Regions from separate parts of the Homo sapiens genome. Here region 2 is linked to region 1. The links come from fine-mapping of genetic effects on gene expression. Tissue or cell type: skeletal muscle. Region 1 holds a variant in brackets; the other region holds the start of a gene. All regions are shown on one strand. Distances are from middle to middle.

The links. PIP is the estimated chance that this variant, and not a neighbour inherited with it, causes the effect.
Region 2: it holds the start of BOC, and the variant in region 1 is fine-mapped to the expression of BOC in skeletal muscle (FUSION, PIP 0.95).

The regions. Positions count from the first base shown.
Region 1 is chr3:113,254,184-113,262,289 of GRCh38, forward strand. The region is part of intron 4 of BOC (BOC cell adhesion associated, oncogene regulated); the gene reads left to right. LOC124909409 (a long non-coding RNA gene) reads right to left here. Exons shown (of 2, transcript XR_007096006.1): 2 at 5,582-8,106. Among named protein-coding and RNA genes, the nearest start is that of BOC, 47 kb to the left of the region's middle. The variant A/C (reference allele first, on the strand shown) is at 4,518.
Region 2 is chr3:113,207,722-113,215,827 of GRCh38, forward strand. It overlaps BOC (BOC cell adhesion associated, oncogene regulated), which reads left to right and starts at 3,836. Exons shown (of 20, transcript NM_001378074.1): 1 at 3,836-4,295. LOC124909486 reads right to left here and starts at 7,909. Exons shown (of 2, transcript XM_047449436.1): 1 at 7,811-7,909; 2 at 1-4,559. The coding sequence starts at 7,909. The coding sequence ends at 3,834. RefSeq lists an enhancer at 4,197-4,848.

The DNA of each region.
Region 1 (8,106 bases):
GAAGAAGGGGCTTGTGCAGAAGCCGAGCTGGGCTTATTTGAAAGCCAAGAACTATTGGCTTGTCATTTAGACATGAATCAGAAGGCAAAATGTTTGGGCCTGACTAGAAAGAAGAAGTGCTGAAAGTTGAGAGAGCAGGCATGGGGGGCTGTGTCATGAAAAAGAGGGAGTTGGTGGAGTGGAACTGCAAAGCTTGGAGGAGGCAGCAACGAGGTGGCGGGAAGGTGGGTGGGGGCAAGTGAAAGGGGTGCTGTCTTTGGGTTAATGCCATTAGGGGATCTGGCCCAGACGCAGCAGTAGATTAAGTTTCTGAAAGCACATTCCTGAGCAGAATAGGGGCTGTGTTTTGCTGGTTGGCTGATGTATGAGGGAGGCCAAGTGGTAGACGGGATTACCGAAGGCACGGTCTGCATTTAGAGGAAAGACTGGGCAGCGGCGTGCCGGTGCACACGCATGCACACCCACACACACTCAGCATGGTAGGCTTCCTTTTCCTCTGGCCTCTTCTCCACGCTGTCCCATGTTCATCCTCGCACAAAGCAGTTGCTGTCTGGCCTACCTGGCAAGATGCCACCTCCTGCATCCACCCTTTAGAAGGGTCATGGGGCTATAGGTCATGGGGCTTAGGACCAGGCTTGAGGATTCAGGGGTGGAGGGGAGGCCTCTAGCAGAATAATTTTCTGGTCCAGTGTTGGAAGCTGGAGGGTCCACTTGTACTTCACCCTGACCAGGTGACATCATCTTTTGATTTTCGGTAAAATGGAGCCAGAGGTCAAATCAACTGAAGAGTCTCACCTGCACTCTCTCCCTCCCTCCACCCCAGGTTGTCCTGGCCATGTGGGTAATGGCTGCTGCATGCTCTGTGGAGGTGCCCATCTCGCTGTCCTCTGAAGAGTTTTTTATTTCCTATTTAACCTAAACTTTAAAAAAAAAAGAAAAACTTTCTTGCTGCCAATGCCCTGCTTCAGATCATCTTGTCTAATTCTTGGTTTTTGAAATGCTTTTAACTTTGAACTCCTTCCTTTCACTTCCCTTTCCCTTTTCACAAGCCTCACACCAGGCAGCCAACCGCTCTACACAGCTCAGCTGTTCCCAGTCTGCTCCTGAACCAACAGCAGACCCTGCCAGGGAGCACTCCACTCCTTCTTACTGGACCCTGAGTTCCACCTCAGGCCTGTTCTCAACACAGTATGGCAAGGAGTCACAACCGACTCATCAGAGCTGGCAGTGGAAAAGCTGTTCTCAATCCCTTACCTCTAACAGTCAACCATTAATAATTGTTTATTTTTAACTTTTAAGATTTTTTGATAATTTTATTCTCCCAATTCTCCCATCATCCCTAGGTCCCACTGGTAGCTGGAAATAAAACAGGTGGTAACCAGGTAGCTACCTATAATTCTAAACTTGGGAATTTTAGTCCTCAAGTTAATGTGAAGTCTTAAGCTGCAGCCGGTATAATTGAGAACAGATCGGTCACCGCTCCTTAAGGCCTCCTAGCGCCAAGGCCAGGCATATACTCCTGAATGGTCCTGTCTCTGGCATCAGAGATCAGCAGGCAAGGTGGCTGACAAGAAAGGAAGGAGTCCCCCTCGCCACTCAACCTCATGAATCTCTGACTTTGAGAAAATGTCCAAAGTGACCAGGGGCCCTTTGTTACCATAATTTAATTTAACCCATGAATAAAATGAAGGGCCAAACTGGTATAATGGAAAAAACAAGAAGCTAAAAAAAATTTTTAAATTCTGGGTTTAAGCCTTAGCTCTGCCATTTAAGTGTTCCATGACTTTGAGCAAATCACTTGGTCTTTAGACTGACTGCCACAGCTGTGAAATGAACACAGTAATTACATCACCAGTCTCATGGGTTTTTTGAGGATAAATGGGAGAATGTATAATATTAGTATTTGAGAGCATTTTAGAAATCCCAGGCTTTATTTGTTCGCCCATGTGGTTGTCAAACATTTCTGGAGTGTCTCCTTTCTGGAGGCTCTAAAGCCCGTGTCCAGCCCTGTACTGCCCAGTTCCATTCTGGGAGTGACCCTTAGGAAGACAGTCCAGAGGGTGGCAGAGCTTCCAGTCATAACCAGAACCAATAGAGGGCTGGCTTCTTATAAAGAGAGAACTAACCCATTCCTGTGACTTTCTTAGTTCCTTATATACATGTGCTCTCTAACTCAGATTCCCACCCCAGCCGCCTTCAGGAGCAGCCACGGTGTCATGGTGCATTGTCAGTGTAGCCCGCAGAGCTGCTCACTGATGCTCCTGTGGGTTCACTGCTGCCCACTCAACTGCTGCCGTATACAGACAGCTGTTGTTTTGCACTGACAGGCTGGGCTGACCCTGGCCTTCAGCATGGTGAATCTTACAAACAGAAGCTATGTCTCTTTGCTCAGCTCCCCTAACCGCTAATTCCCATCACACACTTCACTAAGGTCACCTAGGTTCTGACTGTGAACTAGAATAGTCCATAGTCCATTAAGGACCATTGTAGCGATTTCTTTCTTAAAATATTTCTAGCTTCCTTTATCTCTGTATTAGGGTTCTCCAGAGAAGCAGAACCAATAATACATATATGTGTGTGTGTGTGTATATATATATGTATAATATATTTAATTTTGTATATGTATAATTATATATTATACAAAGATTTATTTTAAAGAGTTAGCTCATGCAGGCTGTAGATTCAGGTAAGAATTGATATTGCAGTCTTAGGGTAAAAGCAGGAAACTCAGGCATATTTTCTGTGTTGTGTTCTTCTCTGGAAAACATGTCTTTGCTATTAATACCCTCAATGATCAAATGAGGCCTATCCCCACTAGGGAGGGTAATTATTTTCTCAAAGTAAAAGATTGTCTAGCAAAGTTGACACATGAAATTAACCATCACAGTCCCCTACTGTCCACCTGAAATACACCACCTGCCTGGAGTTCTTTTGGAATATGTCTCTTTGGAGACAATGTGAAGAAATTAGATTCTCCCTAAGTCCAGCTCCCAGAATCATTAATGGCACCTTTAGACGGAGATGTTTCCACGCTGCCAGGACAATGGTTATTCCTTAACCTTTATGGAGCCATGAGCTCCATTCAAACCTCTGGATGCTTTGGATTTCAACCTTGGGTGGAGCTGACCATTGGAAGATGCAGACACAGAGACCCTGTTGCCCCAGCCCCTACCAGAGATGCATTCACTGGTTGCAGAAACAGCTTCATGAAGTCCTCTCACCTTGGCAGAGGCATATTGTTTGGATTCTCTTTGGCCACAGGTGTCTCAGAGCAAAATTGTGGTTTAATTTGGGCTATCTTATTAAGACTATCCTTTCCTAATTTTCCCCTAGTCTTGATTTTTAAATATATATATAAAACCTATGTCTTGATTTTTTCTCAAGATTTTTTTTTCTCAACTCCTCTGTGAAGTGTAGGGGTGGAGAGGATGAGAGAAGAAACAAGCAAGCAAGAACTCAATTAATAAAATAATTTATCTTTCATTTCCAACAGTCATTATAATTTTCTTCCCAGAATATATTTTCTTACTACAATTAACAATCTACCTCTTTAATTTAATTTTGTCCTCAATACCTTACAACTTAATGCATTCTATTTCTAAAGGCTTCTATTAAATAAGGCAAGACCAAAATTCATGAGTCCCACTTGAAAAACAGCAAAGCACTCATTCTCCAGTGCTGACTCCTATATTTGGATGTTTTGGAGGTTGGTGCCCTAAGAATTGGGAACATTTAGAATTTCTAACAGAGCACAGTAAGATCTGGTCCTGGCCATTGAACATCTCTCAGTCTAATGGAGAAGGTGGACTTTGTTAACACATTAGTCATAAAGCAAGCCAGCCCCATGAGTTGCCCGCCAGAAATGTGAACAGATTTTAATGGGAGCTCGGAGGCTAGCAAGGATTCATTTCCATTTCAGGGGATTGCGGAAGACTCAGCAGTTGAGCCTTGAAGAATGTGTACAAGACAACCTTGATTTTTAATTTCTGAGTCCTCACATACCTTTCTCAGACCTTTAAAAACCAAATTCAGCTCTTAACATTGTGTATTCAGACCTAGGCCCAGTTCAGTTTCTCGGATGGCACCGATACTGCCATAGAAAGTTTTATTTCCATAGTGAGATATTTCCATGGTGAGCTCAATCGAATTCTTAATCTAGCCACCAGGTGATTGTCTCTCTCTCTCCATCCTGTTCCCCGCTCACCCCATTTCTTAACTGTTTCTCATCTCTTTTCTCTTTGGGTATGAACATTTTCTGATTAAGAAAGAAACTTAGAGTGTTTTTTCCAGTACTCCCCACTTCCGCCCCCGTCTGGTTCAGTTAGCCAGTGACTCCCTGACAAAACAGGAGGAGCCATTCGCTCCAAATTGGAAAAACATTTATGTGTTGGCTTGGGCATCAGGGAATCCTGTACAAGCTTTTTGCTTTGGGATGAAGGGATGGCAGTGAGAAGGGTTGTAGGGAAAGAAAACACAGGTGGCTTCCTAAGCTGCCCCAGGAGGGGAAGGAGATTTGC[A/C]GCTGGGGCAGAGTGTGAGCCTGCTTTGGCTGGGAGAGACAGAGACAGCTCCACACAGGGGAATGGAGTTGGAAAAGGAGAGCCAGCTTGAAATTTAGTTGTTCCATACCATAAGTTATGTGTATTTTACTTTGACACTTGGGCAAGAAAATTATTGAAAGATGGCTGAGATCTAAAAGGTGCCTGAGCAACTTGAGCATCTTAATAGGAAATGAATAAGGAATACCTTATAGCTTTAGGACAAAGTTACATCAACGCTTTCTGTTTTCTACTGGATGCAGGCAGAAATTAATAGCTCACTAGAATTATCCCTGATATTCTGGTGAAATCTTCAAATGGCATTGGCTACACTAGTCCTATTAGCCCTGGTGCAAGTACCCAGACAGATCCGTGGTGTAAGTTCTGCTCAGAGCATCTTGGCAGCAAATGTCTGCCCCAAACAGCCAGGAGTCCCATTCTATATTTATCAGAGGTCACTATTTACCAAACAGACCTCAGGTTCATAGTGCATCTTCTACCAAGGACACCCTTAAGGACTCTTAACCCACTCCACCCTTGTCCTCAATTCATTCTTTGCACTCACAGCCAAATGCTTAAATACAATACTGGGTTCATTTTCTAAGCTAAGAGAAAAGGGAAGGGCTGTGTAGTATGTTGATTCAGTGAGCCAAAACACAGTTTGAGGAGCCTTTTGCACCAGAAGCCAAGGGAAAGATTGATTTGCCGGCTTGAAATCACTGGACTCCTTTAAGGAGCATGGTGCAAGATGCTTTCTTTAGAACAAAAAAGAAAACCAAGAGAGCAAATGAGTCCTTGGTTCCCTCATTTTTTAAAAACAGCTTCACACCTCAGCATCCCCTGTTTCTCGTGTGTGTGTGGAAAAGTTGAGCAATTTCTACTTTGACTTTGTTTTTAGACTTTCAGCCATTTTTGGAGTCTGGTAATAATCTTGAGCTCTATAGAACAGTGAGTCTGTCCTGCAAATAGACGTAGTGTTCACATCCAAATTAAAGGATGATCACTTCATAATGAGAAAAAATGTAAACAAAAGGAAAAAAACTTGCTGAAGTAGAAACAGCATTTATTTTCCTATAGGGAGAATTGTGATTAATAGTGAGGTGCTTACAGCCTTTCCCTCAGGCCCACTTTCCATCGCGCACTTTCTCCTAGCTTTCAGAATGGTGGTCCCTCAGCTGGCAGCATCTTCCTCTCCATCTCCGTCCTCAGAAAGTTCCCACCTCTGTTGGGTTACTAATTCCTTCTCAGTTTTCAAGACTCAGGTATCTTCTCTAGGAATGTTTCTTGACCCCTTCAACTTCCAAGTCTAGAGTAGGTTCTCTTCCCGGCTTCCTTAGTACCTTGGGTTTGCTTCCACAGCCCTTTCTTGCCTCTCTATCTGGAGGGTAGGAACTGTTATTATGCATCTGTGTCCACAGTGCTGTCCACGGGGCCTGGCACACCATAGGCCTTCTGTGAATGTCATGAAAGAGGAAGACTCCCAGATAAAACATGTTTGAGGTCTAGAAGATGAAAAAGGGCATACACAGGGTAAATTAACAATTTCTGAATTTCCTTTTCAAATTCTGATATATTTAAAGTTTTCAAGAAGTATATAAGAAAGGATAAAGCAGGGACTCAGGATACAAAGAGGTTGAAGATACAAATGGATTCAAGAAAGACTTAGAAAAATTGATGAATGTCAGAAGCATAAAACAACATTGGAAAGAAACTGAGATGTTTGGAGGAAATTCTGGAACCTCAGGGAGATGCCAGTGAATTTGGCTCCATGACCTAACACAGGGGTCCCCAACCCCCAGGCAGCAGACCAGTACCGTTCCATGGTGGTGCATGGCCTGTTAGGAACAGGGTCACACAGCAGGAGGTGAGCGGTGGACCAGCAAGCATTACCATCTGAACACCACCTCCTGTCAGATCAGCAGTGGCATTAGATTCTATTAGAATAGAATAGAACAGAACAGAACAGAACAGAACAGAACAGAACAGAACAGAACAGAACAGAAAGAACAGAACAGAACAGAACAGAACAGAACAGGTTTTCACCATTCAATAGAATAGGGTTCACCATTAGAGGGTGAACCCTACTGTGAACTGTGCATGCGAGGGATTTAGGAGGTTGTGCGCCCCTTATGAGAATCTAACTAATGTCTATTGATTTGAGGTGGAACAGTTTTATCCCAAAACCATCCCCCCCAGTCTCCCCACCCATGGTCCATGGAAAAATTGTCTTCCATGAAACCCGTCCCTGATGCCAAAAAGGTTGGGGACCACTGTCCTCACATATACCTCAAGGGGCATTTTGGAGTGGGTGGATGGGATTGGTGCCACCGAGGCTGATGGGAGTATGCAGTTTCCAGGTGTGTGGGAAGAAAAAGCAGGCCCCACTGCCCCGTCTCTCCCACCTGGAGTTCTGTTCATCACAGCCACACCAAAGTGCTCATCCCCATTCTTTCTCTCAGCTCCTCAGCCTCCGCTTTCTCTCCTCCCTCTCTTCTTGCACAGGCTGCCAGCCCTTCCAAAGCCTGTGCCAGGATCCAGCTCTGGCTCTGATGAGTCCAGACCACCAGGACTCACATTAATTTTCCCACTGCTAAGTTTATAGTTTGTATTTGGTTGATCAGAGAAATATGTGTGATGTGGGTTGCTGGCAAGTAAATCTTTTTTTCCTTCTGCTCTTTCTTCAGTATATTTTTTTTCTAACTATTTCATTCCTTCATCTAGTCCAAAAGAAACTCCCCAGTTCTGCTAACCAGCCCTACCTCAGAGCGGCCCTGAAGTCGGGTAGATGAGATGGTCTACAGACCAGACATCTGTGTTCATCTGGCTGCCAGACCCAGTGGAGACATGGCTCCATCCTTGACTTGTCTTTGAGGATTAATCGCATTTCTCGTTCTCTTATGTCTTTTTTAAAAATGAAGTATTTTTAATTGGTTCAAGCCAAGAAATTCCTGAAGCCTCAGGCCAATTCATTGCAAATCATTTAATGACATTGCAAAATAGGTTCTTTTTAGTCTCTCTCCTTCTTCCTCTCCCACTCCTCCCTTCTGGCCTGCTTTCCCCTCCTGCCCACCCCCAGATTTCTCTCTCCTGTCTTGACTTTGATTTTCAGCCCTCATCCCCCAGTCTCTTTCATCTCTTCCCCAATCCCAGCTTTCTTCCACTGCTCAAATCTGGGTGTAAATCCCACCTCAACTGAAAGGAAAAGAAAGAAACAAGATTTAACAACTAATGTGCTTGGCATCTACAAAGGTTTGTTTTTTTTTTTAATTCTTCTTCTTCCTCCCCATGGAAACTGTTTTCTTTAAATAAAAAAGAGCATGCCTTGCTTTCATCAGAAAGTGTGTTTGAGAAATTTCATGTCATGTTTCCATGGTTGTCAGGAGAGAGCTTGGGAGCCAAAATTATTTGTGCAATTGGACAGGCAGAAAAAAATCCCAAAGACAGCAAACATATTTATCCAGTCTCCCTGCCTGCAAAGGGAGGAGCAGTACTCACTCTGCCAACTGTGTTTCTAAGTGTCTCTGTAGATTACAGTGTTGACTTAGGCTGGAGTGCTGGTGGAGGTGGTGAG
Region 2 (8,106 bases), 46 kb before region 1:
CCAATTATGTTTCCCTTTAAATGTCTTTCAATTCTGATTCAATTAGAATCATATACTCAGTGTCGATAACGTGTTTATTTGTATTGATGAGAAACAAAAACAAGAAAGAAAAATGACTAGAAAAAACACTCCACTATGTTAATAACAATGTTATCCCTGGGTAGTAACTTTAAGTTGATTTTCTTCTTTTATGTGTTTTTCTACATTTTCTAAATTTTTGTCAGTGCACATATTTTATAATCAGGAAAGCAGATTTATATTAAAACAGAGGAAAACATCATCAAGTCCTTCTTTCTTGTCTACATCTTAATAATTTTCTCAGCATAATCCTCTCCAGATATCTTTCACAGTCAAAGAGATCCCTGTTTATATGATACAGGTAGAGTATCTACAGCACACTGAGAGGAAACCACGTCTTTTCATGTCATTCACTGAATTCCTTCCAGTTTATTCTGCACAGCCTAGCAACATAGTGACTTATATAGACCTACAATCCCTACTCACCTCCCCACTCCTTCCCCCGACCAAGCATTTAAATTAATGTGATGATCACTTCCATACCAAATGCTTCCTTCTTGGTGGAGGCCCATAACATTTCCAAGAAAGCAAGGTGCTAGAGGTAAATCACCATCAACAGAACGGACAGTAGCAAAAAGCACCTTACAAGATCCAGACTCCACCTAACTGTTTTGAAATGGCTAGAGATGCTGGAATGGGTTGGGGTGGGTTAAGATAGAGAAACTAATTGAAAGGGGAGGAGGGAATTAGGCAAGAAATACCCTCCAGGCAAAATGGAGTGGGGAGAAAATTCAGATACGTTGTTCTTACAGGACTAGTAGTAATAAACACAATCACATTAATACAAAGAGCAATAAAAACAATAAACATATCTGAGGTACCAACAGTGTGCTTGATGCCGCCAGCAGAATTAAGTCCTCTTTATTAAGCTGTGATCTGCATTCTGCCTAAACTATAAGAAAGGTGAGCAGCAGGCCGGGAGCAGTGGCTCATGCCTGTAACCCCAGCACTTTGGGAGGCTGAGGCGGGCTGATCACCTGAGGTCAGGAGTTCGAGACCAGCCTGTCCAACATGGTGAAACCCCGTCTCTACTTAAAAAAAAAAAATTAGCCTGGCGTGGTGGCAGGCACCTGTAATCCCAGCTACACGGGAGGCTGAGGCAGGGAGAATCGCTTGAATCGGGGAGGTGGAGGTTGCAGTGAGCTGAGATCATGCCACCGCACTCCAGCCTGGGTGAGAGAGCCAGACTCCATCTTAAAAAAAAAAGGAAAGAAAGAAAGGTGAGCAGCCTGCATGCATGAAGGAACAAGGCAGTGTGTCATTCTCCTGACTAAATGGTGCTGGTAGGGACTGTTACATTCTTTGTGTTCTGTTGTGTTCTGATGCTTAACTCAGAGCCTAGGGCTGTGTGGACCCAAAGACCAGAGTAAGAGAATGGAGAGTCCTAGGAGAAAGATGACAGAAGGGGTAGAAGATATCTTTGAGATGTCAAGCAACGAATAGTATATACAGGAATATAAAAGAATGAATCTGAGACCTTCATGCATCACGTTCTCATTGAGCGGTACTTGGAATCATCTTTGAAAAACAGAAGGCTGGATACGCTGCTTGGGTCCCTGGGGAGAAGGAGTGTTATCACTGCAGAGGAAGCTGGTTGACCCATTCCCTTGGGGGAATTAAAAGTTCTGTACCCAGGGTGGACCCCAGGCCTTGTAGTCCAGAATTGTGCCTTGGAAGGAGGACAAAAGAAAGTGGAAGCTAATATAGTCAATGACTGGAAAGAAAAATAGGTCTTTGAGAATGTTGGGGGAGATTGTTAGAGATTAAAAGGGAAGGAAAATTAGGATGATTAAGTAGGAAAAGGAAATGTAGGTGGATAATGCACAGAGAGAGTTCAGAGTCCTTTTCACCTTCTTGCTGAAAATGCATCATCCTCCAGATCCATTTTGCCAGAGGAACATGCCTAAGAATCCAGGCACAGAGCTGAAAGTACTCGATAAATCAAAAAGGAAATTGGCTTCTGCCTGAATGACTAAATACCGGAGAAAAAATAGTGCAAAATATGGAATAAAATACATTTATGTTTCCTTTGTAAAGGTCTTTTGGTTCAGATTCAATTAGAGTCCTATACTCAGTGTAAAGTATGTATGTTTACTGACAAGAAACAAGTTAATAAAAAACAAAACAGGGCCGGGTGAGGTGGCTCACGCCTGTAATTTTAGCACTTTGGGAGGCCAAGGTGGGCAGATCACTTGAGGCTAGGTGTTCAAGACCAGCCTGGACAACATGGTGAAACTCCGTCTCTACTAAAAATACAAAAATTAGCCGCGCATGGTGGCAGGTGCTTGTAATCCCAGCTGCTTGGGAGGCTGACACTGGAGAATCTCTCGAATTCAGGAGGCAGACTTTGCAGTGAGCCGAGATTGCACCACTACACTCTAGCCTGGGCGACAGAGTGAGACTCTGTCAAAAAACAAACAAACAAACAAACACACACACACACACACACACACACACACACACACACACACACACACACAAAACCCCCAGAGGCCCAGAAAAGTTAAGTGACTTTCCAAAGTCACAGTGGCTTCCTGACTCCCAGTGCAGCTGTCCAGCCACACAGGGAAGGCAGCACCCCCATTCACCCTACTACTAGCCTGGCTGTCTTATTTCCAGGACAGCTTCCTCACCAGCTTGGCACAAACTCCCAGTTCACTTTAAACAAATGGCTTAGCCCTGCTGGGACTTGGTTTTCTCAGCTGCAATGAAGATACGGAATGGATGACCGCTCACAACCTGTGCTTCATTCCTAAAAAATAAGAAGGGAATCCAATTTGCCACCAACTCAACATTTGCCTTCTCACTGCCCTGGAAAGGTAGTTTTTAAAACGTGGCCCCTGACCTGCAGCATCAGCATCACCTGGGAACCTATTTGAAATGCAAATTCCCAGGTCCACCTACTGAATCAGAAACTCTGGAGGTGGGGCCCAGCAAAGGGATTTAGCAAGCCTTCCAGGGAGTCCTGCTGCAGATCAAGTTTGAGAACCACAGCTCTGAAAGTTTTCTGACCAACACACACGCGCGCGTGCGCGTACACATACACACGCATAGGTAACTAACTTTTCCGTGGCCACTAGCACCCCCAACCCATGCCCCCAACCCCAGCCCCAGCTCTCCCTCCCCATTCCTCCCTGGCTCCATCCTGGGATGATGAATGGAGGTCAGGGCGCTGTCAATGGACGACGCGGCAAACCCTCCCCAACCGACCGAGGGGGTCGGGGGAGGCTGCGTTAAGGCTTCCCTGAGATTGGTTTCCTTATCATTTTCTCCACCGCCGCTGTCCCATTTTCTGATGAGTTTGCTTTTAATGATTTATCCAACAGTTTGTCTTGCAGAAGAAGAAGACCATTGAGAGGTGGGTGTCAGGAAAGTCTTGGAAGAGACTAGGCGAAAGGAGGGAAGGATTGTACATGGAAGAGCAAGGGTGCGAGGTGAAGCTAAAGAGAAAGTGAAGGCTTCAGGGGAGCCCCCTGGGTTCGGGGAAAAGGGAGAAGATGGTGCTTTTGGTATGGGAAAGCAAAAGAAGTTGGAGGAGAGCGCGGGTCTGAGGCACAGCAAAAAGTGGGTGTTAACGGGAAAACTGCCCTAGAGTTTGGGGGACTTTTTCCAGCTTCCTTTCCAAGACTTTTTCTTTGCTCCATTTTGCTCCTCCCCCTCCTCCCAGCCTCCTCCACTCCCTCCTCCTCCTCCTCCTCGCACGGTAATGGGAGGCTCCTAGGCAGGAGAAGCAAAAGAAGGAATTGTTTGCGAGTTCAGTCATCCAAAAAGCTTCTTCCATATGGAGGGACCGGGTGCGCTGGGCGCGGCGTCCCCTGCGTTGTCCTCCTGCTGCCGCCCCCGCGGCCGCCGCTTTCTGCCGCGGGGACCCTGAGCCCCGGCCCGCCGGTGTCAGCCGCCGCGCGCGCGCACAGACACACACACAGAGACACACAAACACACACAGAAAAGACACACACGCGCACACACGGCGCGCACACCCTCACGCCCGCCACAGCCACAACACGCCCGCACGCGCCCTCCCTCTCCGGCCCGCAACTTCTCGGTCCTCGGCTCCTTTGTTGCTCCAGCCGCGGCCGCTCGCCCGTGTTGTGTGTCCCCGGTGTCACCGAGCGTGTTGTGTGTCCGTGCGGCGCGGCGCTGTGTGGCTCCCTCGCGCCCACCACGCTGGCCCCCGGGCCCCGGCTCGCCCTTCCCAGGCGCCGGCTGCAGCAGAGGTGAGTCACGTCGCTGAAGTTTGTTTTCTTTTCATAAAAAGTTGTGTTTACTGTTGGTTCGGGGAGAGGAGGGGGCGGGAGGCGGCCGCAGGCCGAGGCAGCGCCAGCGAGTGGCTGCCGGGGGACGTGCCGGCGGCGGGAGCCGGGTCCCAGCGCTCGGCCGGGCGCCCGGGGCTGGGAGCTGCGGCCGAGGCTGGGCGCGCCGGGCGCCGGGCGAAGAAGTTGGGGCGAGGCGGGCAGCGGGGGTCCCGGGGGCTGCAGCCGCTACGGGGCCCAGGGGCGCCGCATCTCGTTCCCTGCCGCAGCGGTCTGGCCGGGCGATGGTGGTTTCGCCTCAGCGGTTCCCAGAAGCTTCTCGGGTGGAAGAAGGATCCAGCCAGCCTCCCAAACTTCCACCGAAGGTTGACACCAGCGCCCCGGCCCCATGCTCCAGGCCGTGGGGGGAACCCGAGGCGTGGCGGCAAATGCGTAGAGTCACTCAACACGCACTCGGCCTCTTTGGAGGGTGAGGGTTTCTCATAGTTGGCGTCTTCTAAAGGAAAAACACTAAAATGAGGAACTCAGCGGACCGGGAGCGACGCAGCTTGAGGGAAGCATCCCTAGCTGTTGGCGCAGAGGGGCGAGGCTGAAGCCGAGTGGCCCGAGGTGTCTGAGGGGCTGGGGCAAAGGTGAAAGAGGTGTGTGTGTGTGTGAGAGAGAGAGTTCGTGTGTGCGTGTACGTGTGTGCGCGCGCGTGTGTGCGTGTTCGCGCCAGCAGCGTCCTCCTGGGGTTTTTGTTGATGTAACTGTGAGAAGGTGTGGGAAATGAATCTCTGGAACCAGTGGGACGGGGCTGTGGGGAGGGCAGGGAACCCAGGAAGAATTTTCATGGGGGTGTTGAAGGGCCTGCTTGACTTTCAGGATGTTCAGTATTAATTTGCTTTTCCAGGTGATGGGAGAATGCTGAGGGATGAGAGAGGCAGGCAGACCTGAAGGAGTTAATGGAGCCTCGGGGATTTGTTTGGCAGAGTTTTGTTTTGGGGATGGGGGTGGCAGTGCCAGAGTTGCTTGGAACAGAGTTGTGCTCCTCCAGAGATGTGGCAGTAGAGCTAAGAATACCGAAACCACACACCAGCAATCCCAAACTGGCACTTTTTGGGTGTGGTGGGGTGTTCTGCTGCTCCCCTCATCCCTTCTCTGCAAGTTCAAATGGGTTCGCCTAAGTTTTTGACCCAGAGTTACCTCTTTGAGTGGACTGAGTGAAGATTATATTTTGATTTCAGGCCCTTGTGCCACCTGCAGATGCACTGTGCCCAGCACACATTTGTCACCTAGTTCTTTGTTGTCCAGAACTCGGTACACATTGACCATTGGATGAATGTCATTTTAAAACTTCAGTGTGCAGACATTTCTGATTTATTCCACGACTGGGTCTTAAACAGGCAGCCCAGCTCTGTGATGGTTTTTTTCATCCCTTTGGTTACAGCCAATAAATCAATCTTCGTTTTCTTAAGGGCAGCATGGAAAATATTAAACCACAGTCTTGGGCTGCTTGTGGGGGCTAGGATGCCCATACATCTGGGTGACCTGTTTTCTGAACTTAAAGTAAATCTGAGGCAAGAGGTTAGCCATTTTGAGGTGTGTAACAGGTTTCCCAGAAACATTTCTGAGGTCTTATAATTGGTACTTTTTAATGGTCTCATAATTGAGACCCAGAAGCTTCTCGTGGTGATCTGAAAGCACCTTGGGGTCAGTGGGACAGAGGCCGGGCAGAAACAGCAGTAGAGTTATTATTTTCCTGCTATGAGTTTTTCAAATGAGTTTATGCAAAGAGGTAAAATGAAAGAAAGAAGAGTTGCCTCATTGGGCCACTTTGCTGACACTGTCCTCCCCTGTATAGATTTGTCACTCAGAATTTGGGCCTTGAGGAGGCTGGAGGGTGTCTACACATTTATGAAGCCTGAGGATTGAGACCTCAGACACTGTCTCTTTTATCCTCTATCGAGATACTTCAGAAATGCTTCACTGCAAGAGACATTCGCTAGGGAGCAGTTGTCCCCCACGCCATAGGCCACTGGCTTTACTTGGGAAAAGAGGTTGCTAGAAGCCAGAATGGTTGATTCTTTGACTACAACTGGAGAGGGAGGGTGTGGGGAAAAAATAGAGAGGACTCTGCTTAGCTGTTAATTGGTGAGCCAACTCTTGGTAAGCTGTGTGATTTATGTTCCTTTCCACCCTCCAAATGGGTCCAGAGATTTTCCCTTTTTTTGAAGTGCTTTTTCAAGTGTTTGGGATCCCGGCTCTCTTCAACAACATGGTTTCCATGCCCTAAGAATGAATAAGAGATTTTACCCATGAAATAATTCAGTTGACTTTCACATGGACCCCCCACGGTTTGAAAAAGGAGAGCAAGAAGTGAGCCTGATGTGTCATAGTGTTCCGTGTCCCCTAGGGGGTCTGGGTTCAAATTTCGGCAAAGCCACTGATGTGGGTAATGAATTAGGGTTTATCTCTGTGTCTTTCAAACTACAACAGAAAACTCAGGTGCACCAAATAATTGCTATCCAATACCTTGTGGCCTCTGAATAAGAAAATATTAACTTGGCACCAAAAGATATTATATATTTGGAAGTTGCTTTCTTTCCTCCAAACTCTAAGCCCTCTTGCTGTCTGGGAAAATATGGGACAGGAGAAAAGAATCGAAATTTGAGAGGGAGAGGAAAGAAAATAATATGTTCCATTTAGAAAAATCTATTTACTCTAACATATGTAACTTCTTGTCATCTCCATACTTCAATTCAGCAAACATTTTTAGTGCATCAGGCACCAGGCTGAAAGCTTCCTTGTCCCAGGAAAGTAAGCTTTATTAGTCAAATGATGGTTCCTCCTCAGTTTTTATTTATTGTACAAGCATCTACTTGTAATTAAGAAAATGTTTTTTAAATTATCCACAATCCTATGGACTTGTGTTGCTCATCATGTGCATGCATACTTTTGACATAGTTGTGATAAGAGTATGAACTTTTGTCATCAGACAGCCCTGAAGTGTCTCTACATTTTTGACTAAAGACTCAGAGAACAGATGTAGCCAACTACTTTGCTGTTGGTTGGAAAGACCCAAATCCTAAGTGTGCTCCCACATGGAGCCTTAACATGTAACATTTTCATAATTTATGAGGTTGACTCAAATATTTGGGGTTAGGGGGTGGGATGGGAGAGGGTGTTTGTTTTTAATCTATAAACCCGTGTTTATGAAAAGCTTGCCTAAAGAAGGTTTTGCTTCTTTGGAGCCCTCAGGGTTGGTAACGGATAGAGAAGAGGAGGTGGAATGCAGGAAGGAAGGTTTAGAGGATCCATCTCAAATGGCACTGCCTTTAGGAGGGTTAGGAAACTGGGGTTGGAATCTAAGCTCTGCCTGTGAACTCCATTCACACTGACTCAAACCACTGAACTAATCTATTCCTACATCTCTACTGCCACCCAGTTAGACACCTTCCCCAAGTTTGCCTGCTCTTTCCTGCCCTTCCTTTTATTACTCCACCATCTTTTTCATTCCTGCCACCACCAGACTTGTTGATGCCCTTGACAATTGTTGCTGGCACGTGGCTGGGCCCCCAGTGCCAACCTGTGACCATCCCACCCATTCTCCATGAGTCCTATAATCAAGTCACCACCCAGCTTTAAAACAACCTAGGTTTAAAACCCTAATTTCTTAAAGCTCTGCTGTGTAGCTCTGTCCTACCTCATGATAGTATTACTTCAGTAGGAGCCACCTTCTCCAATCTAGCAGCTGACCCTTGGTTTTTGCTGAGTTCATTCCTTGCCCTCTGTA